Linked DNA regions of Homo sapiens. The protein of the gene in region 5 purifies or fractionates together with the protein of the main gene of each other region. This does not show direct contact. Each region holds a gene or a part of one and is shown on either strand. Other genes may lie near its edges. The genes, in order: SFXN5, NUS1, OCLN, SLC25A46, LCTL, SUSD5 and USP22.

Evidence for each region.
Region 1: the proteins of LCTL (region 5) and SFXN5 purify together in Homo sapiens (affinity purification with mass spectrometry; one large-scale study listed by BioGRID and IntAct). This does not show direct contact.
Region 2: the proteins of LCTL (region 5) and NUS1 purify together in Homo sapiens (affinity purification with mass spectrometry; one large-scale study listed by BioGRID and IntAct). This does not show direct contact.
Region 3: the proteins of LCTL (region 5) and OCLN purify together in Homo sapiens (affinity purification with mass spectrometry; one large-scale study listed by BioGRID and IntAct). This does not show direct contact.
Region 4: the proteins of LCTL (region 5) and SLC25A46 purify together in Homo sapiens (affinity purification with mass spectrometry; one large-scale study listed by BioGRID and IntAct). This does not show direct contact.
Region 6: the proteins of LCTL (region 5) and SUSD5 purify together in Homo sapiens (affinity purification with mass spectrometry; one large-scale study listed by BioGRID and IntAct). This does not show direct contact.
Region 7: the proteins of LCTL (region 5) and USP22 purify together in Homo sapiens (affinity purification with mass spectrometry; one large-scale study listed by BioGRID and IntAct). This does not show direct contact.

What each region holds. Positions count from the first base shown.
Region 1 is NC_000002.12:72,998,713-73,002,212, reverse strand, and holds part of SFXN5 (sideroflexin-5), read left to right. Parts: intron 1-634; coding exon 635-688; intron 689-1,725; coding exon 1,726-1,782; intron 1,783-3,198; coding exon 3,199-3,264; intron 3,265-3,500. UniProt on the Homo sapiens protein: Mitochondrial amino-acid transporter. Transports citrate. Does not act as a serine transporter: not able to mediate transport of serine into mitochondria.
Region 2 is NC_000006.12:117,692,469-117,695,968, forward strand, and holds part of NUS1 (dehydrodolichyl diphosphate synthase complex subunit NUS1), read left to right. Parts: intron 1-573; coding exon 574-699; intron 700-1,562; coding exon 1,563-1,712; intron 1,713-3,500. UniProt on the Homo sapiens protein: With DHDDS, forms the dehydrodolichyl diphosphate synthase (DDS) complex, an essential component of the dolichol monophosphate (Dol-P) biosynthetic machinery.
Region 3 is NC_000005.10:69,548,290-69,551,789, forward strand, and holds part of OCLN (occludin), read left to right. Parts: intron 1-3,254; coding exon 3,255-3,296; intron 3,297-3,500. UniProt on the Homo sapiens protein: May play a role in the formation and regulation of the tight junction (TJ) paracellular permeability barrier.
Region 4 is NC_000005.10:110,742,007-110,745,506, forward strand, and holds part of SLC25A46 (mitochondrial outer membrane protein SLC25A46), read left to right. Parts: intron 1-40; coding exon 41-83; intron 84-1,723; coding exon 1,724-1,781; intron 1,782-3,500. UniProt on the Homo sapiens protein: Transmembrane protein of the mitochondrial outer membrane that controls mitochondrial organization.
Region 5 is NC_000015.10:66,563,199-66,567,205, reverse strand, and holds the start of LCTL (lactase-like protein isoform 1 precursor), read left to right. Parts: upstream 1-1,207; 5' UTR 1,208-1,349; intron 1,350-1,818; 5' UTR 1,819-1,840; coding exon 1,841-1,958; intron 1,959-2,366; coding exon 2,367-2,530; intron 2,531-3,207; coding exon 3,208-3,295; intron 3,296-3,580; coding exon 3,581-3,690; intron 3,691-4,007. UniProt on the Homo sapiens protein: Plays a role in formation of the lens suture in the eye, which is important for normal optical properties of the lens.
Region 6 is NC_000003.12:33,216,011-33,220,090, reverse strand, and holds the start of SUSD5 (sushi domain-containing protein 5 precursor), read left to right. Parts: upstream 1-1,280; 5' UTR 1,281-1,293; coding exon 1,294-1,405; intron 1,406-4,080.
Region 7 is NC_000017.11:21,033,012-21,036,511, reverse strand, and holds part of USP22 (ubiquitin carboxyl-terminal hydrolase 22), read left to right. Parts: intron 1-3,500. UniProt on the Homo sapiens protein: Deubiquitinase that plays a role in several cellular processes including transcriptional regulation, cell cycle progression or innate immunity.

The DNA.
Region 1 (3,500 bases), on a different chromosome or scaffold from region 5:
AAATATTAGAAATCTATGTTTCATTCAGTTGCTTAAACCTGGTATAGGTTTTTGCTTCATGGAAATTCACAGATAACAGATACAAATTCCCCCAACTTGTATTTACAAAGCACTTAAGGCCTTTGAAATGATTTTTGTTTAATCCTCGCAAAAATCCTACGGGAAGGCTAGGGTGAGCAGTCAGGTAACCTGAGTGGAAACGAAGGTATTCCTTTTGTTTGCTTGTTTTTATTGCCCCCCTAATTGTGGAAATAATACATGTCTGTTGTTTAAAAGAATACAGAAATATTTAAGATTGTGCAAAAGTAATCTGCAACCCAACCTCCAGAGACATCCACACTACAGGTTTTTTCATGCTTGAAGATAATGTGTGTATGCATGTGTTTGTGTATATCGTTATATATAAAATGATTTTTCTTTAAATAAATAAGATTATGCTGTAATATAATTCTGCAACTTGGTTTTTTCCCATCACACAGCCTCTCCCTCAATGAACCTCAGTTTGTATGTACACGGCATACCACATCAGTTTGTACAGATCCAGCTCACTCATTTGTGGTAGCGTATTTTTTCTTTGCAAAAGCATAGGATGTTTCTTCTGCCTTTTTCAGCATTTCTTCTCTCTTGCTCATAGGTAGTCGGTCTTCTCTTGCCCAACCAGACACTGGCATCCACTGTCTTCTGGCAGGTAACAGTCTCGCAGCAAACAGGGCTCCTGAAGGAAGGGCCCACACAGGTGCTGGTTAAGAACTCCCTGCTGTGGTGTCTCCTGCCCCGTCCAGACCCCGTGTAGGGTCAGTCCACCCCAACACCACCCCTAGCCCAGAAGCCACTGAAGGAAAACCAGGACTTTGGCCCTGCTGAGCAGGTCTCCAGCAGCCCAGCATGTCTCAATCCACCATGTGTCACTCTAACCTTTGGACAGAGGTCATGAGGGCTGCGTGCCCCTGCCTGGAACATGCTGGCTTGTCAGTGGGGTGGCCCCCACTCTGCCCCTTGGCTGCTCATCCCAAGGCCAGTGACCCTGAGGCCCATAGCCTCATTTTGACATCAGCCTCCCCCACATCTGCTGAGGAAGCTAAATCCACCCCTAACCTGAGGTTGTGAAGTGCATCACAGACCCTGGTCCCTGCTCTTGGAGACAGTCTGGGTTGTGATGCCATGAAAACTGAGGATATCTCTGTGTTTGTGTGTGCAGAGAAAGACGGGCAGGAAGGAAAACCTGTCTGTCTTCTAGGAGAAAATGTCAGTCTTCCCTGAACTAAACTCCTGCCGGCCTCTGTGTCTGGGAACTGGAGGTGCAGGATACTGGACTGGGAGATTTTTGAAAGAATTGTAGGGCTGTCAGTCATTCTAGGCCAACTTTTGTCCAGCAGGTAATATAATAAAGATGGTGTGACAAAGGCAGTGGGGTCTGCAGGGGCAGTGAATGCCATCATTCCAAGAGAGGTGACTGTCTCAGGATCAGGTGGACTACTGGGGTGCGCAGGACCCCATTCAGGAACCGAGAGACTTCCCGAGAGGCAGGGCTTCCAGTGCTAACACCAGCACAGCCCTGGGCAAACCAGGACGGTCAGTCATGCTGACCGGCAGCATGGGCGGCACCATGTGAGCTGGAGACCGCATGCTGTGCCTTTCTGGGGATGTGTGGCCTCCTGGGGTCCAGGCCTGGCTTCCAGGGAGGTGACCACTCCTTCCCTGACTTCTCTCATCATTGCCTTTCAGTGGCTGAACCAGAGCCACAATGCCTGTGTCAACTATGCAAACCGCAATGCGACCAAGGTGAGCATCACTGCCCTCTCCCCAGTGGTGGGGTTCAGGCTAGGGAGGCCCAGTCATCCTCCCTACAGCGTGACATGCCACCATCAGTGGCTGCCTCTTGGTTAAGCATGGCCCTCCTCTAGATATCTTATTTAAAATGCCAGCCCTTCAGGTGGGTGGCCGACTCAGACATGACTCAGCTGAGGTCAGCTGCAGTTTCTGGGCCAGGAGCCCTCTGGGGAGGGGCTGTTTACATGAAGTGAAGAAGGCCCATTAAATGGGAGCAGTGCAAGGGATGAGTTCGGCTGGCTTTCAGATTCTTCTTGGGTAGCTCTTACATTTGGGTTTTGGATCATGATGGTATCAGCTACTTGGGGGCAAAATTCCCATAAAGCTTCCTCCAAAATTTCTGGAAGCTGCCTTAGCGCTCCCAGGTCCCGACTGCTGGCCACAAGCTGAAGGGCTGCTCCTGAGTGGGGAGGGTCCAGGGCTGGTAACTCCCCCCCAGAGCCCCTGCACTCCTTGGAGAGCTTGTGGTGGAGGCCCAGTCACCCTTCTGTTGTCCAGGAAGGGCTGCTGGGCCCCTGCTTTGCTGGCAAGGCCACCTCTCCCCAACTTCAATTCAAAGGCAAAGAAGGCAGGATGCATCTAAGTCCCCTTTGGGGGCCTGTCAGTTTGGGGTAGAGGAGAGTCCTAACATTTGCTCACCTTGGGGGAGAGGAGGGGAATAGGAGCTGGCCTGGGCCATAGGAATTGAGAGGCCTGATATGCTGTGGCTGCCCCCTGACATCTAAACCTCCACCCCAAGTCTCTCTCATAGGCTTCACATATGGCCATCTCTGCTTGGATGACTCCCTTTATCTTAAACCAGACACTTCTAGACCTGCAGTTGTAGCACAGGGCAAGTTCCTTAGCTTTTTCTTAATTGTCTGTGTTGGAACTTGGGGTATATTATTCTCTAGAGATATTGGGCAGCTATCATCTGTTGACATGGGAGCCCAGCTGTTCCATGGGCTGGCAAGGCCTGTGAGAGCCTTGACACTGGCATTTCCACCTAGAAAGCGCTCCAGATGCCAAATGGCCCCCTTGAAACATTTAGCCTCTAAACTGAAGACTGCTTGCCCCAGCCTTCAATGGTCCATGTTAGCCTTGCTGTTCTCCACCTCCACCCAGCACTGTCTGCCAGTGACCTTTCTAGAACAGGGCAGGAGTGAAGTGGGCCCTTCAGTATCTCCCTGGATACTGGTGATTTATATTTCTGCATTGGGAACTGAGCTGAGGGTGGCCTGATCCCTTTGAGTCCTGAGGGGCCTCTTCCTTCTACCCACTTTCCAGGCTGGTGGGCAGGATGCTTCTTGCTGGCTGGGACAGCTTACAAGGGGAAGTATGGGAGCTTTGGGCACCCAGCAGGCCTGAAATTCTGCCTCTGTTTTCCAGCCTTCACCTGCATCCAAGTTCATCCAGGGATACCTGGGAGCTGTCATCAGCGCCGTCTCCATTGCTGTGAGTACTCCCTCCCCTGCTCCTTCTTGGCTCTGCTGCTCTGGGGCCACCCCGCTCAGCATTGCAGGTGGATGCTTGTCTGAGGGCCAGGCCAGGCAAGGATTTGGGAGACAGGTTTCTGTGGGTGGAGGAGTCAGGACAGGCTTTCCAAGCCGAGAAGAGGCTCCAGTAGACAGAGCACAACCTGGTGCTCCCTGTAATGGAGAGCAGGTGGGGAGGTGAGGTTGTGCCTGGGG
Region 2 (3,500 bases), on a different chromosome or scaffold from region 5:
ATAGAGGACCATACATTGTTCTTTGTATTTTATTTCTGTGCTTTGTTTTAAATTTACTAAATTGTTTTTCTGTTCTCTTTTTACGTAATCCTTATTACTTCCTCTTATGATTTAAAAAACTAATCAAATTGAGGCAAGATTATTTAATACAAGTAGTAAATCTGCAGAAAAGGTACATTAGACTGTGAGTGAGGAACATAACAGGCTCTAGACCACTGCTGCAGTTTATAATTTCTTGGAGAAGAACCTTAAAGAGTTTAGGCCTCAGTTTCTGAATCCATAAAGATTTTAAGTAAGTGATCTCTTAAAATTCCTAAGTCTAAATTTCTGTCATATTCACATGCCACTACTTAAGTAGTTACCTCTGTTCTTTTTTTTGCTGGAAGCCAGACTCTTGTATTAACAAAGTTTTGTTGTCATGTTTTCCTTTTAGATTCTAGTTTAGGACTAGTCATTACAGCTTTGTTTGACATTCGTTTAGTTCTGGATCTAGTGTTGTTTTCATAGCAAGCATTCACTTGAAGAGGAAAAATTAACCTAGTTGTGTTTTACTTGCCTTTTTCTTTTTTAAAGGTATTTTCAAAAGAAATAATTCCAGATTGATGGATGAAATTTTAAAACAACAGCAAGAACTTCTGGGCCTAGATTGTTCAAAATACTCACCAGAATTTGCAAATAGTAATGACAAAGATGATCAAGGTAAGCATGAGTGTATAATTGAACATGTAACATATGAAGATGTGTGTTTTGTGTTTCATGGCAATTTCTGTTACTCTGTCATTTATTCATTCACGTTGCTCTGTTACTCTTTATTGTCAACATCTTTAATCATCAGATTTAGACTTTCTCGTCTTAATCTTGGTAAAAAGTGAACACATGATAAGGATTTTATTTAACCAGGCAAATTTTTTAACTGGTTCCACAGAGAATCCATAGAATGGACACATTTGTAGAGATATTGAAATGAATATATAAATAGAGGTACAACTGGTTGTTCTATGGAGTGAGGAAAGAAATTGAATCTTTGCTGGACAAGAAAGAATTTGCATGTCTATAGATAAGAATTTTGCAGTGTTATCTGAGAATCCCATCAATTGTAAGATAGCTCCTATAAAAGTAGAATTGATAAAGGTATGTATGCTATAGGCAATGCATATTCCACTCTAACAGTTTTTTCTTAGTCTTTATTTTTTCTTTTATTCTGTGTTACTGCTAACGATATCGCAATTATACAGGAAATTTTAGATGCGTGAAAATTTGTTAGCTAGCCTATAAAGTTTCTGTTTTCTAGAGGATGTAGTCACAATGTATAGTCATTCTGAACACTTTGAAAAGAAGGCAGTGTATAAATATATACATGGATGTGATTTGGGATATATGGATCCTTTCAGAGGAGAATAGCTAAGTATGTTTTGATATTGAAATTGAAGGGCTTAAAAAATTCTTGTTTACTGTAAGAACTGTATGTTTATTTTGGTTTAACCTTGTATTTCTTAAAACTGCTTTTGAAATATACCTGGAAGAGAGTGTTTTTAAAATACATTGTTTGTTTTTTCTTCCAGTTTTAAATTGCCATTTGGCAGTGAAGGTGCTGTCTCCGGAAGATGGAAAAGCAGATATTGTAAGAGCTGCTCAGGACTTTTGCCAGTTAGTAGCCCAGAAGCAAAAGAGACCCACAGATTTGGATGTAGATACGTTAGCCAGTTTACTTAGTAAGTTTTTTTATATATATATACATATATATGTATATGTATGTGTGTGTGTTTAGTTTTGTCACACGAGGATACAGTATGAAAGAAAATATTTTTGTTTCTTTCACACCATAAAGCCTGATTCTTTTGTTGTTAATACCTGTTAAATTTCTGAAATTTAAAGACCTATGTAAAAATGGTTTCGAGACAATGAAATTTGTAGCCACTCACTCGCATGAGGATTTAATGGTAAAGGAGATGACCTTTGAGGATCTTTTTTGTAGTGATGAATATTCTTGAAAATAGGACTTCTGCTTGTTAGCCTTCCTCTCCCTCTTCCCCTTTCTTTTTAGTTTGAACTTTCCCTTAACTTTGAACTTAATCTTTTTATGAGGTGATCCCAGGAATATAATCTTACTGTTACCATGATTCCTTTTTAATTATTCTTTCTATTATGCTATACCAAATATACAACTGTATTTGTCATGTTATACCAAATATAACTTTTTTTCTTCAGCTGTTTAAATAAGCCTTTGGTTTGCATATTCTGTCTAGAGAATTCCCTCTAGGACCTTTTTGCCATAATGTCATGGTTCTTCTTGCTTACTAGCATTAGCCTTGATCCTTTTGAAGAAAGACAATCTCTCTAGTAAATTCATGTTCATTAATAGCTTCTATAGGCATACAGTTTTAGACATTCATTCATTTTTTATTACTTAGACTATCCATTTACTTATTAATCGTGCATTTTCAGGCTGGATGGGGTGGCTCACACTTGTAATCCCAGCACTTTGGGAGGCTGAGGCAGGTGGATCGCTTGAGCGCAGGAGTTTGAGACCAACCTGCGCAACATAGCAAAACCCCATCTCTACAAAAAATAAAAAATTAGCCAGGCATGGTGGCTCACGCCTGTGGTCCCAGCTACTCAGAAGGCTGAAGCAGGAGTATAGTTTGAGTTCAAGAGGCAGAGGTTGCAGTGAGCCAAGATCGCATCAGTACACTCTAGCCTGGGTGACGGAGTGAGACCCTGTCTCAAAAAAAAAAAAAAAAAAAAAAAAAAAAGAAAAAGAAATGCATTTTCTATCTTAACTTATTTACTTAACTCTCCATTCTTTGTTTCTTCCACTTTGACATGTGTCCGTCACAGAGCAAAGTCCATCTCCCACTTCTTGGTTTCGCTAACTTCCTACTTTTGTTGACTACTTGCTTCTTACCCTACCCTGTCATTGCCTAATTATATTCAGGCTCAGTGAGTAGTAGACCATTATGGGGCCTCTCTGCTCAGATGTTACTGGGATGTTGACTGTTTCCTGCACCCTATGAGACCCTAATAAGAGAGTAATTTCATAAGGACATTCTAAAAGTTGATGGAGATCCAAAGATGACCTTCAGGTAGTCCATGGGAAAGCGCTAATGTTTATTAAGCCCAGTTGTTGCCTTCAGGCATTGTAAGCTTAGGATAAATGAAAATGTACACAATTCTTAACTTATTAATTTGACAGAGGCAAGCATTCTGAATACCATCACCATCAAAAGTTCCTTTGTGACTGCATTTAGTCCCCACTCCTGCCCCCTAAACCAGCAACCACTGGTCTGGTTTCTGACTATACTTTCGCTTTTTCTATAAATTTTATATAAAAGGAGTCATACAATATATAGTCTTTTATGTCTTGCTTTGTTTACTTACCATATTTTTGAGGTTCATCTATGTAAAATGCATTAGTTATTCATTGTTTTTTATTGGTGAGTAGTATTTTCTAGATATACCACGTTTTGCTTATGCATTCATCGGTTAATGCACATGTGGTT
Region 3 (3,500 bases), on a different chromosome or scaffold from region 5:
GTTAATAATTACAAAGCACTATTCTGTTTTTTTTTTTTTTTTGAGGTGGAGTCTCGTTCTGTTGCCCAGGCTGGAGTGCAGTGGCGTGATCTCAGCTCACTGCAAGCTCTGCCTCCCGGGTTCACGCCATTCTCCTGACTCAGCCTCCCAAGTAGCTGGGATTACAGGTGCCTGCCACCACGCCCGGCTAATTTTTTGTATTTTTTTTTTTTAGTAGAGACGGGGTTTCACCATGTTAGCCAGGATGGTCTCGATCTCCTGACCTCGTGATCTGCCCGTCTTAGCCTCCCAAAGTGCTGGGATTACAGGCGTGAGCCACCGCGCCCAGCCCCTACAAAGCACTATTCTATGTACATCTATCCTTTCCTATTTAAAATAAAATAGCCAGGCTGGGCATGGTGGCTCATGGCTATAATCCCCACACTTTGGGAGGCCAAGGCAAGTGGATCACCTGAGGTCAGGAGTTAGAGAATAGCGTGCCTAACATGGTGAAACCCCATCTCTACTAAAAATACAAAAAATAGCAGGGCATGGTGGCAGACACCTGTAATCCCAGCTACTCGGGGAGGCTGAGACAGGAGAATTGCTTGAACCTGGGATGGGGGAGGTTGCAGTGAGCCAAGATTGCGCCATTGCACTCCAGCCTGGGCGACAGAGTGAGACTCCATCTCAAAAATTAATAATAATAATAATAAAATAGCCTTATTATCTTTCCTATTTATAAAGCCATTCATTCTTTCTGTAGAAAAGAACTTAAGCGGCCGGGCACGGTGGCTAATGCCTGTAATCCCAGCACTTTGGGAGGCCGAGGTGGGCGGATCATGAGGTCAGGAGATCGAGACCATCCTGGCTAACACAGTGAAACCCCGTCTCTACTAAAAAAAAAAAAAAAATACAAAAAATTAGCCAGGTATGGTGGCGGGTACTTGTAGTCTCAGCTACTTGGGAGGCTGAGGCAGGAGAATGGTGTGAACCCAGGAGGCGGAGCTTGCAGTGAGCCAAGATCGCGCCACTGCACTCCAGCCTGAGTGACAGAGTGAGACTCCATCTCAAAAAAAAAAAAAAAAAAAAAAAGAACTTAAGTAACACAGAACTGTATACAGAAAAAGAAATCATCTTAAATCCTACCATCAAGAAATCCTTATCACCAAAATATTAGTTAAAACAATCTCTCCAAGCAGGAGTCACCAAGGCACATACACCTTTCTTTAAGGAAACATCATCTTCCATGTTTCACTTATTTTCTTCCTGTCTTTTAAATCAACAGTTTATGGGTTTTTTTTTTCCCTCCCTTGATCACCTGGCTGAGATAGAATTTGTCCATGTAAAGTTACTGGATTTTTTTTTCAATCCATCCTTTTCATACTGTATTTTGTATACATACTGAAATTAATGTAGTTACACCACCTTTTAGAGGGAGATTAATCTCTTCTTGTTTATTTGTTCCTTTATTGATCAGTCAATCACTTACGTAAGTATGGACTTTACAGATACCTGTTTTATACTGTGAATTATAATCCAAGGCTGCTTTATTTTGTAGCTCTAATTGTTCTCGCTTTGACGGTTGGGAACTTTCAGTTGCTTCCCGTGTCCCTTTGACATACTCTTATTGTGGGGTTTTATCTTTAAAAAAAAAACAAACAAAAAAACTTCCTTGCACTGCTTATTTCTGGCTTTTCTTAACAGCAAGTTTTTTTTTTTATATCAATAATAAAGACCTACTTACTTTTAAGTTTTTTATGTGTAAAATTAGGTAAACAACTTTCAAATTTATGGTTGTATCATAATTTAAGAGTCATTTTCTATGGATAGACATTTAAGTATGTCTCCCCCTACTCCAGTAGTACCAGTATATACTGGTGAACCTCTCTGTTTTTGCACTCTTGTCTACTTATCTAATTTTTTTTTTTTTTTTTTTTTGAGACGGAGTCTTGCTCTGTCGCCCAGGCTGGAGTGCAGTGGCGCTATCTTGGCTCACTGCAACCTTCGCCTCCTAGGTTCAAGTGATTCTCCCGCCTCAGCCTCCCGAGTAGCTGGGATTACAGGCATGTGGCACCACACCTGACTAATTTTTGTATTTTTAGTAGAGACGGGGTTTTGCCATGTTGGTCAGGCTAGCCTCGAACTCCTGACCTCAGGTGATCTGCCTGCCTTGGCCTCCCAAAGTGCTGGAATTACGTGTGTGAGCCACAGTGCCCAGCCTGCTTATCTAACTAAAACTAATTCCAGAATGTGAAATTGCTGAGAGTCAGAGGGTACGTACCTTTGCAAAGTTGCAAAATTGCCCTCCAGAGAGACTGCACCAACTGTGTCTCCCTCTTGATACAATACAGGACTCATTTGATGCACATCTCATTAAATATTCTGCCATTTTTCAGTTGAGGTGATCTACTTTTTAGTTTTGACGTATTCACATCTTTATATAGTTAGATTTATGTATTTCTTTTATGGTTTCTATAGGGTGTTATAGATCTTTCTTAATTTAGTGAACATTTATTGATCACTTATTTTTCTTTGATGATGTGGAAATGCTGGAGCTAGAGACATAAAATCTTGTCCCCACCCTAAAAGAGCTTATATTTTAAGAAAAAAAACCTGACATCTAAACAATTTAGACAGTATGATTAATGCTGTATTTGCATCATGTGTAGAAAGCACTATAACTAACTGCTCATAGAAGAAATAAAGTCTTTGGAGGCTTCACAGTGAGGGAATCGTTAAGAGCTTTCCAGACAGAAGGGTGCGGGGAGGTGCATGATTACAGCCATAAGGAAAACATGATTGAAATCCTGAAGCATTTAACATGTCTCAGTTTTTAAAGGAGTTGCTGATGATGGGTACTGAGACTGGAAAGGTAGGAAACTGGATGAGGGGAGAAGTTAATGGGAAGCTCAGACCAGTTGTGTAGTGGGATATTACCTGATCAGCGAGCGCTCTGTGTTATAAAAGATCTTCCTGGTGTCAATGTAGCATGGGGACTGGCATGAGGAGAGATGAGAAGTAGCAGAACAGATAGTTACCTGCCTATGTGAGTGAAATGTGAAAGATACAGTATCATAAATGTCTCTTCACTGAATTCCTTCAGACCTTCCTGCTGATCATGAGTTTTAAGAGCTTTACGACTTCATTCTTTTAATTGCTTATATTTTTGTCATAAGCTGTCATTTTTAGCTCCAAAGTATAACATCAGGAATGTTACTTTTAAAAGAGAAAATGCCCCAGTAAACATATTCCTTTGTGTCTGTCGTTAATAGGCTGCTGCTGATGAATACAATAGACTGAAGCAAGTGAAGGGAGTAAGTATCCGAGATTGTTCTTTTAGGAAGAACTTTCTTTCTTCTTCTTTTTATTTTAATTCCCATACCTACTCATCTGGAGGAAGAGCTTTTCTATTACATGTTTTTCATTTTTTATTTTATATATTTTTTAAAAGTTGAAGTATACATACAGAAAAGTGTATAAATCAAAGTGTATAACATGGTGAATTTTCACAATGTGAC
Region 4 (3,500 bases), on a different chromosome or scaffold from region 5:
AGTAATCTTATTTTTTTATTTCTATTTTTTTTTACTTTAGAACAGCTGAATAGATTTGCTGGATTTGGTATTGGACTTGCAAGGTAATGTTTTATCTAAAGACGTTTACAGCTTTTATTTATTGAATTTAGAGTTTTTCTTTAATTTACAATATTAAATGATTATTATTGCTTCCTTTAGGTTGTTTCTTTGAAGCAGCAGCTTAAATTTTGAATAATATTTTGCAGAAAAAAAATGACCATTATTTAAAATATATAATTTGATAGTTTTTCCAGTAAGGATAGACTAGTCATCCAATTTTATAAACACAAAGTAATTTTGTAATGAGTATTGTAACTGTTTTCATGGGTCTATCCAAAAAATAAAATGAAGTGTAATCTTATCTCTCTCCCATCAAAATAATAATTTAGAATGGGGTTCATGAAGATCAAATGGCTCTGCTGATAAGAACTTTTTTCATAGGACATTTTCTGAAAGAAAAATTACATGGCATTTAATGATGCCATGTAACTGACGTGTCATTTCCCACATCAAACATACAGTGATCTAGTTTCATTTTATACCGTAGATATTAATATTGTGTATTATATATTGTTTCCCTTACTTACCTGTTTGCAGATCTGGTTTTCATTCTTTTCATGGGTCTATCCAAAGAATAAAATGAAATGTAATCTGTCTGTCTCCCATCAAAAAAGTAATTGTGCATGGAGGCTTCTTTCTAAACACTCTAATGCTTACAAGATATTTAGCAACATAGCATCTAGATTTTGTTCATAATCAGCGTTTGGTGATAGCATTACTTTTTTTTATATCTAACGATCATTTTAAGAAAATCCTTTAGTCTTGATTATTGTGATCCTTAGTGAATACCATTTTCAAAAATATTGGAATTGCACAAAGCTTACATTTCATGCCATAATGATCATTATTTTAAACATTTTAACGAAGAAAAACACCTTATTTGCATAATTAAACCCGAGGGTGTTAATGTCAATATAAATAAAATCTGTGTTTTCCATTCTGCTGGAGTTGTTTTTTGCTTCAATATTTATACTTAAAGCTTTGATTCATTTGATAGACTATTATTACATATAAATATGTGTGCACATGTATGTATATGTCACTCTGAGACCTGAAACCCACAGCTGTAATTGTTTTGTGGGGCACATTCTCAAAATAAATATTTGATACATAAATATTAGTCAATTAACATGGTCATTAAGAATCTTATAATTTAAGATTTATACTTAAATTTATACTTAAACCTTATAATTTAAGTGCACCAAAACCAAACATTTTTAGAATGGGGTTCATGAAGATCAAATGACTCTGCTGATAGGAATTCTGTTATTAGGACATTTTCTGAAAGAAATAATTTGCAGCATTAAATGCCATTTAATTGATGTGCCATTTCCCACATTAAACATTCAGAGATCTAGTTTCATCTTATACTATAGACATTAATATTATGTATTATGTATTGTTTCCCTTATTTACTAGTATGCAGATCTGGTTTTCATTCTTTTCATATTGAATTTCGTTATGGGTAGAATCATTTGCAAACATTTCTAGACATTTTTAAAGATCTATTTAATTTGTTTAAGAATGGAAAACATAAAATAATGCATGATTCTTCAGGCAAGAATAATTTCAGAAAGATACCTGTTGTAAATTTAATTTATCTCTATGTAGACATACATATACATAAATTATTTTTATATAGTCTCTTTACAGAAAATGTATTGGCACATCCTTGCATTGTTCTACGCCGCCAATGTCAGGTAAATGTAATTTCTGTGATCTTTTGAAGCAATACTTCTGACCCTAATATGAAGGGCAGAACTCACATAAATGACATGAAACCAGGTAATTGTTACTTCATGTGAAATGTTCCAAACTTTTTGGTCTCAAAACCTCTTTAAAGTCTTAAAAAAATATTGAGGATCCTAAATAACTTTGGTTTATGTTGGTCATATCTATTGATAGTTACCATTTCAGAAATTAAAATTGGGAAAATTTCAATGCATCTATATAATTCATTAAAATAATAACACCTGTTAGTAAGATAATATGTTTTTATGAAAGTAACTATTTTGCATTTTTGCAAATATCTTTAATATCTGACATAATAGGAGAGAGCCAGTTTCTCTCGTATGCTTCTGCAGTCAATCTGTTGCATCACGTGGTTTTTGAAAGAAGCAAGGAAGTTTAGTCTTGTACACATGTATAGTTGAAAGCAGGAGAGGAGTATATTATATTCTTTTGAGATAATTGTGGGTATTCTTTGCAATTGCACCAAAACTCACTGTGTCGCAGTTTCTTAAAGGTTATTTGCAATGTGAAATCAGAAATCATTTTAGTGAACTTTTTATACTTTGTTACATTAAAAAATCCATTTAACTATACTGCATCTTGAATAGATATTTTTACTTATGCCTGATTCCATGTAATTGTGCATAAGTTATTTGAAAAATATTGACCAATTGAGTTACATAGATCTTCCTGTTGTTAAAACATTTGATTATAAAATATCAAAAAATCATCTTCATTAAAAATACTACTGATCTCACTAGAAAAGTCTATAAGTATTGTCAGCTCTTGACGATGCATATAGATTTTCCAAAATTCTGAGTTTTAGTTGAAAATTCAAACTTATCATTGACAGTAAATACTGTTATTTATTTTTGTTTTAATCAACAATCTCACTTTGTTTATTTTTTAAAATATGTCTGTCCTGAAAGTGAATAGGTATAGTCCGTCAATGAGTTTTTCTAAGTAAAAATGATGTTCCGTGAAAAAAGTGGCTAGTTTAGCTTGCAGTTCTATCATACAAGTGCTTTCCTCATGACAGCAATCTTACTTCCTTATGTAACACACAGGATATTAATTAGAAAGAGGATGTGTACTCAAAGGTCAAGGATTCATAAAATTAACATTTTGTTACTTCATTGTCAAGGATATTACTATATGAAGGTTGCTTTTTTCTCTCTATGGGTAAATGAGGTGAAAAATTACTGTAAGTACGAAAATACAGTTTGATGGTGCTGCCTCAATTTGTGCTAATGAGCTGGGAGTTTTACCTACCATTGCTTTTGTACCATTAGTGAAAATGTCAAGACAGTGAAAAAAGGAAATTATATCTTAGTAATCACTAGGAAAATAATTTTGAACTTGTCAAGCCCCTGAAAGGGTAATGGGGCCCTCAGGAGTCAGTGGACCCCACTTGCAAACTCTGTTATAACCCACTTTTTTTTTTTGTTTGTTTGAGACGGAGTCTCGCTCTGTTGCCCAAACTGGAGTGCAGTGGCATGATCTCGGCTCACTGCAAACTCCGCCTCCTGGGTTCACGCCATTCTCCTGCCTCAGCCTCCCGAGTAGCTGGGACTACAGGAGCCCGCCACCGTGCCCAGCTAATTTTTTGTATTTTTAGTAGAGACGGGGTTTCATCGTGTTAGCCAGGATGGTCTCGATCTCCTGACCTCATGATCCGCCCGCCTCAG
Region 5 (4,007 bases):
AGAGGACTGGATGCTGATGAACCAGGCTGGCCGCCTCCCGCCTCCCAGGAACCTACAAAGGGGCAGGGGACAGATACATAAACAGCTGATGTGGAAGTGCAGGGTGGGAGGGGTAAACGCAGGCTGTAGGAAAACCCAGGAACAGCCTAGACAACATAGCAAGACCCCATCTCTACAAAAAATTAGGCATGCGTGGTGGTGGGTGCCTATAGCCCCAGCTACTTGGGGTGCTGAGGTGGATCACTTGAGCCCAGGAGGTCCAGGCTGCAGTGAGCCGTGACCATGTCACTGTTTAAAAGAAAAAGAAAGAAGGAAGGAAGGAAGGAAGGAGAAAGAGAGAGAGAGAGAAAGAAAAAGAAAGAAAAGAAAGAAGAAGAAAGAAAGAAAAGAAAGAAGAAGAAAGAAAGAAAGAAAGAAAGAAAGAAAGAAAGAAAGAAAGAAAGAAAGAAAGAAAGAAAGAAAGAAAACAAAAAAAGAAAGAAAAGAAAACAAAATCCAGAGAACCTAGTCTGGCCTGAGGGTGCATGAATCCAGAAAGGCTTCCTGGAGGAGGTGCTACCCATTGAAGACCCAAAGGAAGAGTACAAAGAAATTAACCAACAACAAAGCCATAAGGCCCAGTTGAGAGAGCTGTGGTGAGGGCTCAGCTGAAGGCAGGGAGGCTGGAAATTGAGCTATGTGAAGGAGGCCTTTCTGATGGGGAGGGCACTGCAGGGAAGGGAGCCACAGCAGATGAGGGCAAGAGGTGCTGAGACTACAGGGTGGGCTGTTCTAGCAGGTGGTGCTGGTTGAATGAATGAGTGAGGAAAGAAATGAATGAGGGATACAAAGAGAGAAGGCCAAGGTGGAAAAACCAACTCTATCTTTTATGGTGGGTTTTTTGGTTGTTTTTTTTTTGGCAGCTGGGACAAGTAGACAGAGACACATGGCAACATACACTGGTCCTGCGCCACCCCCAGCTTGGGACTCGAAGGACTGGGGTGTGCTGAAGGTGGCATGTCAAGCCCAGAAGGGTCCAGGAGGACCAGGTCTCCCCCCTCCTTGGCTGCCCTTCTGTCCCAGGATGGGGAGTTGATTGATAGCTCCCCTGCCCCCCCGCCCCCCACCCAGCGCCAAGCTCCCCCAGCTGCTGACTCAGGCCCTGCCGGCCAGCTCAGCATTCCTGCCCGGCCCCCACTGAATGGAGCTATTGAAAGTTTCTGTAGCCACAGACCACACCCCCAACCAGAGCCTTCGGCTGTGCTGTGGCTCCTCTCTCAGGGGACAGCGTAGGCCCTGGGGGTCAGTTGGAGAGGGCTCTGACTACCAGCGACTGCTCTGGGGGTGTCTGCGATCAAGGACGATCCTGGGTAAGCTGGCTGGGCTGGCACCAAAGAGGGGATTCCAGAGCGAGGGGTCTCCCTCGTGTGCAGGACAGAGGCACTGGGATGGGCAACCCCGGCTTGGGGGAGGGGTCTGCGTGTCGTTGGGAGAGCCAAAGGGCCCTGTGGGTTTTCCCACCTGCCCCCTCAGACTGGAGCTTCCCTGAGGTAGACGTGGTTTCCCCCTTAGATAGAGGCCACTCAGGGGTATGGGCTGGGTCTCCCCCATCAGACAGGAGCCAAGGTAGGGAGAAGGGATAGTTTGGAGTCTTGCCCATCAGTCTCAGAGCTCCCCAGGCACGGAAACAGCATCAGACATCCAGCCTCAGCCTCTGCTGCTGGGTGCAGATCAAGCGCCTTCCTTTCCCTTCCTCTCCCCACTTGGCCTTTGCCCTAAGCCAAGACCTGGCCATCAGCCTGGCTGCAGGGGCCTGCAGAGCCAGCTGCACTTTTTCAGGTATGGGGGAGGGCCAGGCACCATGAAGCCAGTGTGGGTCGCCACCCTTCTGTGGATGCTACTGCTGGTGCCCAGGCTGGGGGCCGCCCGGAAGGGGTCCCCAGAAGAGGCCTCCTTCTACTATGGAACCTTCCCTCTTGGTACGGCCACGCCTCTGTTCGTCTGTCTGCCTGTCTGTCGTCCACCTGCCCACTTTGGCTGACTTGACAAGGAGTTTGGTGTTCTTGCTTCCTGATTGGCAGGATGAGAAACCTACCTTTGTGTGGTTGTTCTAAAAGCTCCTAACAGATATTTTTTTTTTGAAGTTACTAAAAATTACACAGATAATGTATGCTAATCAGAGCTAAAATTGTGCAAAAAATGTTTTTAATATATCTTCCCCTACCGTGCCTCATGTGCTCACACTCCTAGGAAGACAAGTCCCCAGTGGGACAGGGGCAGCGTGGTAGGGAGGGGCAGTCCCTGAGGCCTGGGAGGCACAGCCCAGAGTCCTGGCTCTGGGTGACACATGGGAGCACCTGGGACCCAGCACGGGTCTCCCCCTGCAGGCTTCTCCTGGGGCGTGGGCAGTTCTGCCTACCAGACGGAGGGCGCCTGGGACCAGGACGGGAAAGGGCCTAGCATCTGGGACGTCTTCACACACAGTGGGAAGGGGAAAGTGCTTGGGAATGAGACGGCAGATGTAGCCTGTGACGGCTACTACAAGGTCCAGGTGAGTGCGGGGTGTGAGTGTGTGTGTGTGCGCGCGCGTGCACACACATGTGAGTACATGCCTAGCTGGGAGGCAGGGAGTGACGTTTGGGGGAGCTCTGATGACAATGTCATCCCCATGCTCTGCCAAACACCCTCTACCCCAGTGCAGCCAGAGGGGGCAGGGCCAGTGGGGGTGAAGGTTTGGGAGGGGCCAGGATGTGAGGTGGATGTAGGAGGAAAGGAAAGTGGGGCCTCACCTGAGCCAGTGCCTCAGGCCAAGTGAAGGGGGAGCTGAAGGGCTGATCCCACAGCCTCAGGGCCTACAGCCACAGTGGCCTGAACCCCTGGTCCCTGCTTGTCAGTTGCACCCTGTGGAGGGAGTGGGACCCGCTCATCCTCAGCACCCACTTTCCTCTCTGGATGGCTTCTTGAGGAACTCATCACCCAGGTTTACTAGGGGCACCCTGATGGACTTCTCTCAGTGCCTCCCTGTCCTGCGTTTTCTTTGACTCTTGGCATATCCCCTGCATGAAGTGGGCAGGTGGCATCACCTCTGTTGTACAGGTGAGGAAGCAGGTTCTTCCTTGCCCACTAACAGCTACAGACAAGAGTGAGCCTCGGCCCTAGAGCCCGATGGACCCCTACCTCCCATACCCAGGGCCCAGGTGACCTGTCTCCCCACCCCTGTCTGCACAGGAGGACATCATTCTGCTGAGGGAACTGCACGTCAACCACTACCGATTCTCCCTGTCTTGGCCCCGGCTCCTGCCCACAGGCATCCGAGGTGAGCTAGGGAAGCCCCTCTTGAACCCAAGTGAGGCCCCTTCCGGCAATGTTGGCTTTGCAGGGGCACCACAGAGTCCTGGGGAGGGAGATCAGCCCATGAACGTAGTTGCTGACGGTAGCAGCTCTCACAGGTTCTGCAGGTAACTGGGCTCCCAGAATGCTGGTGGGCTGAGGGTGCCTCAGGCCTTCAAAAAGCAACAGGGCCCAGGAATGCTGCACTCCAGAAGGCCAAGGCCAAGGCCGAGGTCCTTTCTGGTAGCATCTTCTTTTATTTCACCTGCAGCCGAGCAGGTGAACAAGAAGGGAATCGAATTCTACAGTGATCTTATCGATGCCCTTCTGAGCAGCAACATCACTCCCATCGTGACCTTGCACCACTGGGATCTGCCACAGGTGAGGACCTGAGCAGGCTCACAGGCCCAAAGGGGACTCAACTAAGCAGGAGGGAGCCCAGTTTGAGGACTTGGGTTGCCAAGGTGGAGCAGAGACTAGGGTCTGGATTCTGGCGCAGGACTATAAGATGCGAGTGAGTGAAAAAATCTCTCTGACTCACTGTCTTAATCCACTTTTGCTGTTGCAATGGAATGCCTGAGTCTGGGTAACTTGTAAAGAACGGGAATGTATCTTCCCACAGTTCTGGAGGCTGGGAAGTCCAAGATCAAGACACTGGCAGGTGCAGACTCTGGTGAGGCCCCAGTCTCTGCTTCCAA
Region 6 (4,080 bases), on a different chromosome or scaffold from region 5:
GATGTGGATTCAAATCCAAGTTCTTACTGTGAAAAGAAAGTAAATTATTTCAATGTCTGTGTCCTGGTTCATTAAATGAGGATAATCATCTGCCCCTTTAGCACCAATCACTTTTTCAATTGTAAGTATATTTTATTTAAGTGTGAACATTTTTAGGACCGATTGCAGCCACATTCAGGGTCTAGCACAGGGACAGGCATGTATGGGCACTCAATAGATGTTTGTTGACCCATACATCAATATAAAAGGGATTTGCAAATTGTAGAGCACCGCGCATGCCTCAGTTATAACAATACTGATCTTTATTACTCTACCTATGAAGAAAGCAAGTTCTTCTTTCACTGAACAGGGCTGGTGGTAGGGAGACAGGCTAGGGGCGAGCAGGAAGAAGGAATCAAGTCAAACAGGGACCCCTGCAGCAGAATCCATTGGGACACTTTAACTTAGAGTGTAGATTCCCAGACCAGACCGACAGAGTCCGAATCTCAGACCCTTTCGAGGTCAAAAAGCCCTGATTTGGGAGGTGGGTGATAATGGTGACAATCTCACTAGCCCTCTTACTGCTCCTTGAGAAATACTAGCGTACCAGGAAAAGTGGTGAAGGAAGCGTTCCTGAAGATATCCTTTCCTCAGTGACTCTCAAACTTCGCTTTTAGGAAAGAGGAATTTCGCTATTCCATGCGTTTCACACCTTAGAGTGAGGGTGGTAGGTAACTTAGATTTTCCTCTCTTCATTAAAAAAAAAAAAAAAAAAGAGTGTTGGTGGGGAGGGGGAGGAGGCCAGTTGAAAAGTAGAGGCCGAGGACAGAGTTAGACACTCGTTGTCTAACGGCCCTGCCGGAGGGGCTCCGCCTGTCAGACTGCGTCACCCTCTCGCCAAGGGTCCCCCAGACGGGCGGGGGCTCCTTGCGGCCGGCTAGCTACTCTCCCCGCCTCCCTGCGCCCTCGCCCTCCGCCCCGCTGTACCCGCAGAGCGCGCGGCCCAGCGCAGCCCCTTTTGGCACCGAGGTTTCCAGGTGCCCAGCGCGAAGGCGGAGCCGGGTTACAGCCGCCTCCTCGGCGCCACAGAGAAGACCCCCGGGAGTTCGGCGGCCCAGGCGCTCCGGCTCTGCGTCCCGAGCCTCCCCCGGCTCTCCGCGCTCCTCCCTCTCGGCGCGCCCGGCGCGAAGCCTGCGATTCGTGAGCCGAGCGCAGAGCGCAGAGCCGAGTGGCGCACGCTGGGCAGTGGCCTGGGCAACCCCAAACGCAGCCAGAGCCCTCACCCGAGTCCGCTGGCCCGCGCACTCCCGGACCATGACTGCCGAGGGACCCAGCCCGCCTGCCCGTTGGCACAGACGCCTCCCCGGGCTCTGGGCGGCGGCGCTGCTCCTGCTCGGTCTGCCGCGCCTTTCGGTGCGGGCGGATGGTGAGTGTGCGGGAGGCGGCGGGGCGGGGGGTGGAGCGTGGGGTCCGGGCAGGGAGGGCGTAGCTCGCCGGGGCTGCTCCCTCTGACCGGCCCGGCAAGCGGCAAGCGCAAGCCTGAGAGGAACGAACGAGCCGCGGTCCTGCGACCCAGCATCCCTCTCCTGGCCCACCAAGTCTCCGCGTGCCCGTGCGCCCAAACGCCCGCCTGGTGCCTGGACCCTCCCTTAGCGCCGAGCGCGTAGGTCCCGCAGTCCCGCCGCTGGCTTTCCTAAGGTCTCCAAGAAAGCTCGAATGAAATCACCTCTAAGGTGCCCTAGAACCTCCTCTGCTAAGGGGTGATTTTCCGCCGTCCCTCAGTTTCTCAACGTCTATTAATGTGCCCCTGAGGACACCGCCGATGGTTAGAAAACTCCCTCGGATATTTTGGCTTGGTCCGGGAAGACGTGAAAGATGAGTGGGAATCAGCGAGGCTAAGAGAGAGAGAATGGCCTGGCCAGAGGGAAAAGCACGTGCAAAGGCTGTCTCTGAGTGACAGGAAAAACGGGACAAATGATAAAGCAAAGTACCTGGAGGCGAGGGGACGTCTTGAGACATGAGGTAGAGAAGTGGGCAAGGGCCAGATTATGGCAGGTTCTCTGAGAATTGATCCACTTCTTGTTCGTTTGCTTGGTTTTTCAGCCTGAATTTAGCTTGTAATACTTGCCCTAAAATGAGCAGGATTGGAGCTCTGTATCCATTCCCTTTTGAAAAGCTAATTCAGCTGTGTTTTCATATTAGAACAAAATCCCGCTGACTTGGTACAGGAGCATCTGAAGGAAGCAAGCTTAAAGCCAGCAGTTCTCACACCCATGAGGTAGTTCTAGCTTAGGACGAATTAGACTGATAAAAGAGAAAAGCCCTCCGTCAATTTAGGATGCGTTGTATATTTTAAAATGTGATTCTTGTTTAGCCAACGATATTGAGTGAAACTAGAAGACATGGGGAAAAAAAAAAAAAGCATGGTTGTCAGGAAAAGGGGAAAGCCAAGGAAAAAACCGTCTAGGTCGTAGAGTTTTTAGTGCTCTCTGTTTTAAGTGCAGGCTTGAAAAGCTCTCCGTTCCTAATTAAGGATGAATGTCGTATTTCTCCATATCCTCAGAGAGAGTGTTAGAGACAAAACATTTTTAACTTTGAAGGCTGTTAGTAACCACTGCTAATTTTTTTAATTGACATGTATTTCACATAAAATTTGTCATTTTAAAATATACAGTTAAGTGGGTTTTAGTATATTCATTAGGTTGTGAAAACCATGGTTTGCATGCATCTAATTCCAGAACATTTCCATCACTCCTCAAAAGAATCCCATACCTATTAGCAGTTTACTGATAATTCTTCACTGTAGTGTTTTTTGACTGACATTGAGCCATGAAAATTAAGCTGATTTTAAAGAATGCAAGTAGAATAAATTGGAGCTAATATTAATCTTTGAACAAGATATATTGTGCCAACTTTAATTCCTTTTAAATAAATATTTTTGCAATCCATAAGGTTTTAGAGTTTCATCCCATTATAACTGTTTAAGTGGAATGCCATGTGGATAAGGATCAATATTTTGTGCCTGTCTAGCTTGATACGGGTCATAGAAAATTAAAGGCAGAAATGTCACTGGTCAAAGAGAAAGTAAGGACAACACCAGAGCACATGATTCTTTGTTACTGCTTGCCAGAAATGATTCCTTTTCTTCATTCTCCTTCCTTTTCTTTCCCCACTTCCTCAGTGGACAATTATAGGTATACTTCCTTATAGTAAACTCAATTTTATGAGCTCCAACTTTTATACTAGAACCAGGAAGAGTTATAAGCTATATTATCAAAGGATTCTTTTTGGTACTAAATTCTTAGCTGCCACCAGTTCCTACATTTAGTTATTTGTGTGCTATGGTGACGGGAGGAAGAAGAAGAAATGCTCAGCTTAAGTATGATGAATTACAGATGTTTGAAGAGATAGATTTGGAGAGAAACTATTTCTAAAAACGTGTCATCTGTATAAGGATGGTCTTTGAAATCATGTGCGTGGGCAGAATCCTAAGGAAAAATTTTACAGCAAGAAGACCTAGAACTGAGCCTGGAGTGAGGGAAGCTGGTTTGGGATTATTGAATCTATGTTTATGAAACATATTAGCCTGTAATTTTCATTTTTTATAATATCTTTGCCAAGTGTTGATATCAAACGTATGATGGTTCCTAAACCAAATTGTAAAGTTGCTCCTTCTTTAACTCTGAAAGGGTTTCTGCGGGTGAGGGCTTTTGTTTGTTTGTTTTGGTGTGAGATCATCTGTGTCTGAAGGTTTTCTTGTAGGAAGATTTTAAATAATGAATTTAATTTGTTTGGTAGATAAAGAAGTATTCAGATTTTAAAATTAATTTTGTGTCAATGTTGCTAAGTTTTATTTTTTAAAGTTTTTCCCCCACTTCATTTAGATTGTCTAATGTGGCATATACAATGTAATAATCTCTAATTATCATTTCAGGGTCCACGGGATCTGTAGTGATGTTCCCTTTCATTCTTGATATTGGTACTTTGTGTTTTCTCTTTTTTTGTCTTGATCAGTCTTAGTAGGGGTTTATCCGTTTTATTATTCATTTGAAAAAAGCAACTTTTGGCTTTATTTTCTTGATTGTGTGTCTGCTTTCCGTT
Region 7 (3,500 bases), on a different chromosome or scaffold from region 5:
AGTGCTCAGTTACAGTTCCTTTTGCTTTTAGTCTTACACTCCCTCCTCATTTCCACATTACTTAGGTACTTCCCTCCCCACCCCTCTTGGCGGAGTTGTGTCCTATATGTGTAATACAATTGGTTTCTTCTGCCTCAGCCTGCATTCCATAGGGCCTCATCAGTTATTTTTAAAATCGCATATATTAAGGTTTGCTCTTTGTGCTTTAAAGCTCAGTGGATTTTGACAGAGGCATCCACAACTACAGTACTGTACAGAACAGTTGCACTGCCCCAAGAAATCCCTGTGCTTCACCTTCTAACTCTCCACAACCACTGGTCTCGTCTCCATCTCGGAGGTTTTTCCCTTTCCAGAATGTCATATCATTGGGTTCATACAGTCTGTAGCCTTTTCATACTGGCTTCTTTTGTCTAGCAATATCCATTGTATCCATTGAGTGGATTGAAAGTTCATTCCTTTTTTTTTTTTTTTTTTTTTTTTTGAGACGGAGTCTTGCTCTGTCGCCCAGGCTGGAGTGCAGTGGTGCGATCTCGGCTCACTGCAAGCTCCGCCTCCTGGGTTCACGCCATTCTCTTGCCTCAGCCTCCCGAGTAACTGGGACTACAGGCGCCTGCCACCACGCCCAGCTAATTTTTTTGTATTTTTAGTAGAGACTGGGTTTCACTGTGTTAGCCAGGATGGTCTCGATCTCCTGACCTTGTGATCTGTCTGCCTCAGCCTCCCGAAGTGCTGGGATTACAGGCGTGAGCCACCGCGCCCAGCCGAAAGTTCATTCCTTTTTCTTTTAATGGTATTTATCATGTGGCTATACTGGTAAGTCGTTTAAGTTTCTTAATCTGTAGGTTCTCTCTTCATTCCTTTCTTACAGTTTTTTGCTTCTACTTTATCTGTTGAAAAACTTGGGCCTTGTGACTTGTTGACTTCCCTATAGTCTGGATTTTGCTGTTTGCATACTCAACAGTGGAAGTTCAAAGTGTTGTGGTTTGTTTTTTTTTTGTCCTATTTCCTACAAATTGGTAGCAGGGTCTCCTATTAAGGCTTTTCCTGTATTTAGCACACAGACTTGATCACCTTGGTATTAAGCGGATGGAAGCTTAGGTAGGAAGTAAACTCAGTTTTCAAGGATTAAAATGACCCGCCTAATGGATATGTGAGTCTTTTTCTTGCCTCTTGTTTTATGTTGGCCAGTACCTGTAGCAGAGGGTGCTGAAGAGTAGAAATTGAGATAGAATTGAGTGTGAGTTTTATTATTATATGTTAGCAGCTCTGGTAAGAAACTCAGAGAATTAAGTGAGAATGGTAGATTAAAATGAGGCTTTAGGATAATGTGATTGCTCCCCATACATGTGTAATTGACAGTTGTGTGAGGTGAGCTCAATTTAAAGGAAGACTAGCCTAAGCTGGTCAGTACCAGGAGGATTTTGCCCCAGTTTGCTTCCGTCCAAGTGTGTGTCCCTCAGCACAGCATCTCTTGGGCTTCCTCATTTCCTGTTTATGATAATAGAGTACTCACCCCCATCCTTGAGGGATACATTCCAAGACCTCCGGTAGTTGTCTGAAACCACAGATAATACTGAACCCCATTTGTATTACGTGCAAACTTTTTTCCTTCATAATTTCATGGATAGATTTGTTCTTACTGTAGATCTTAGCAACCTTGTTATTTGATATTGTTTTCTTATTAAGAATTTTTACCTTTTCACGTAAAAGAAGCCCTTTATGGCTTTTCTTTGGCATATCCAAATTGCAGCATCAGTACTCTTGAGCTTTGGGGCCATATTAAGCCAAATAAAAGTGGCTTGTGTTCACTTTTATCCGTGATCACATCCGCAACAGTTGATGTGATCAGCAAGACAGCTACCAAGTGACTTAACGGGCAGGTGGCCTAGATGGCACGGAGAAGCTGGACAAAGGGATGGTCATGGGACAGAGCGGGATGTCACTCAGTTTCATCATGTTTCTCAGAACGGCGGGCAGTTTAAAGCTTATGAATTGTTTATTTCTGGCATTTCCATGTTACTATTTTCAGACTGAGGTTGACTGTGGGTAACTGAAACCACAGCAAGCGGAACTGTAGGTAAGGGAGGACTGCTGTGATATTTTATATTTCATACGTAATTTCCTTCTGGTTTTGGTAGTTGGGATACACTTTTTAGGTAGGCCTGGCAAGTAAGTCTCCTGACCTGTCCAAGGACATCACCGGCAACTGCTGGGTCCCAGCCTTGAAATGAGGTCAGTCTGAGGTCTTGCCTTTGCTGAATGAAATTACCCCTTCTGTAAATTGAAAGGTCTGGAGTCGCTGTACCCTTAGATTGATTTTGGCTCCGAGATTGAGGGGCCTGAGTCTGGAAGCTGAGGTTTTTGAGGTTGGGGAACTTAATTTGAGAAGATTATCTAATTTTGGCAAAGTCTTTAGCTTTTTAGTGCCGTATTTTTTTTTTCATATAAAGGATAGAATATTTAGGCCGGGCACGGTGGCTCATGCCTGTAATCCCAGCACTTTGGGAGGCTGAGGTGGGTGGATCACTTGAGGTCAGTAGTTCAAGACCATCCTGGCCAACATGGTGAAACCTCATCTGTACTAAAATACAAAAAGTTAGCCGAGCATGGTGGCACGCGCCCGTAGTCCCAGATACTCGGGAGGCTGAGGCAGGGGAATCACTTGAACCCGGGAGGCGGAGGTTGCAGTTAGCGGAGATTACGCCACTGCACTCCAGCCTGGTGACAGAGCAAGACTCCTTCTCAAAAAAAAAAAAAATTATACCTGTCCCTTCACTTATGTCAGTGTTTGAGTCCTTGAAAAAGTCACTGAAGAGAATGCACAAGAATTAAACTTACCTTCCTAAGATGCTCAGGTTTTAGACCAGTAGGAAGTCATGGGTAATGTGTGAAAAGTGCACTAGCTCTTAAGGTGGTGTGTCATGTTTGCACACTTTTAAAAGCTGGACTCAAAATTCAGTGTACTGTTGAGTCATCCCATAGGGTAAGTCTGGTTGACTACAAGGGCTCTGCCCCTCTTGCTCCTCCGCATCCTTCTTGGGGTGGGAGGTAGTGTGAGTGGGGAGATAAGAGGACAGGATATTCAGAGGAATATTCTTAATATCGGGACCAAATTAATGAATTTGGCAGGGTGTTTCTGTACTGCATAAGATCAACAACAATTAAATAATTGATCCTCTTCTAATTCCTGTCACATACAAATCCTAGTTATGTTTCAGGATTTGCTTGCAGTCTACTGAATCTACTTGAATTAATTTATAGGAGAAAAGGATTTAATTCAGAAATCATTGCAAGGGCTATGGAGTAGTAGATTCTAGGTTGAATTTCTAGGAAAACCCGCCAGCCTGGGGAATCCTGCCTCTGCAGGAGCCACCACACCAGAAAGTGGTGTGCTGGGCTGCTTAAACAGTGCCACCCCTCCACGGTCCATGTCAGCCTGTGGATGCCCCCACTGGGCCTCTCTCCTTAGCTTACTCACCAACCGCATCGTCTGCAAATGT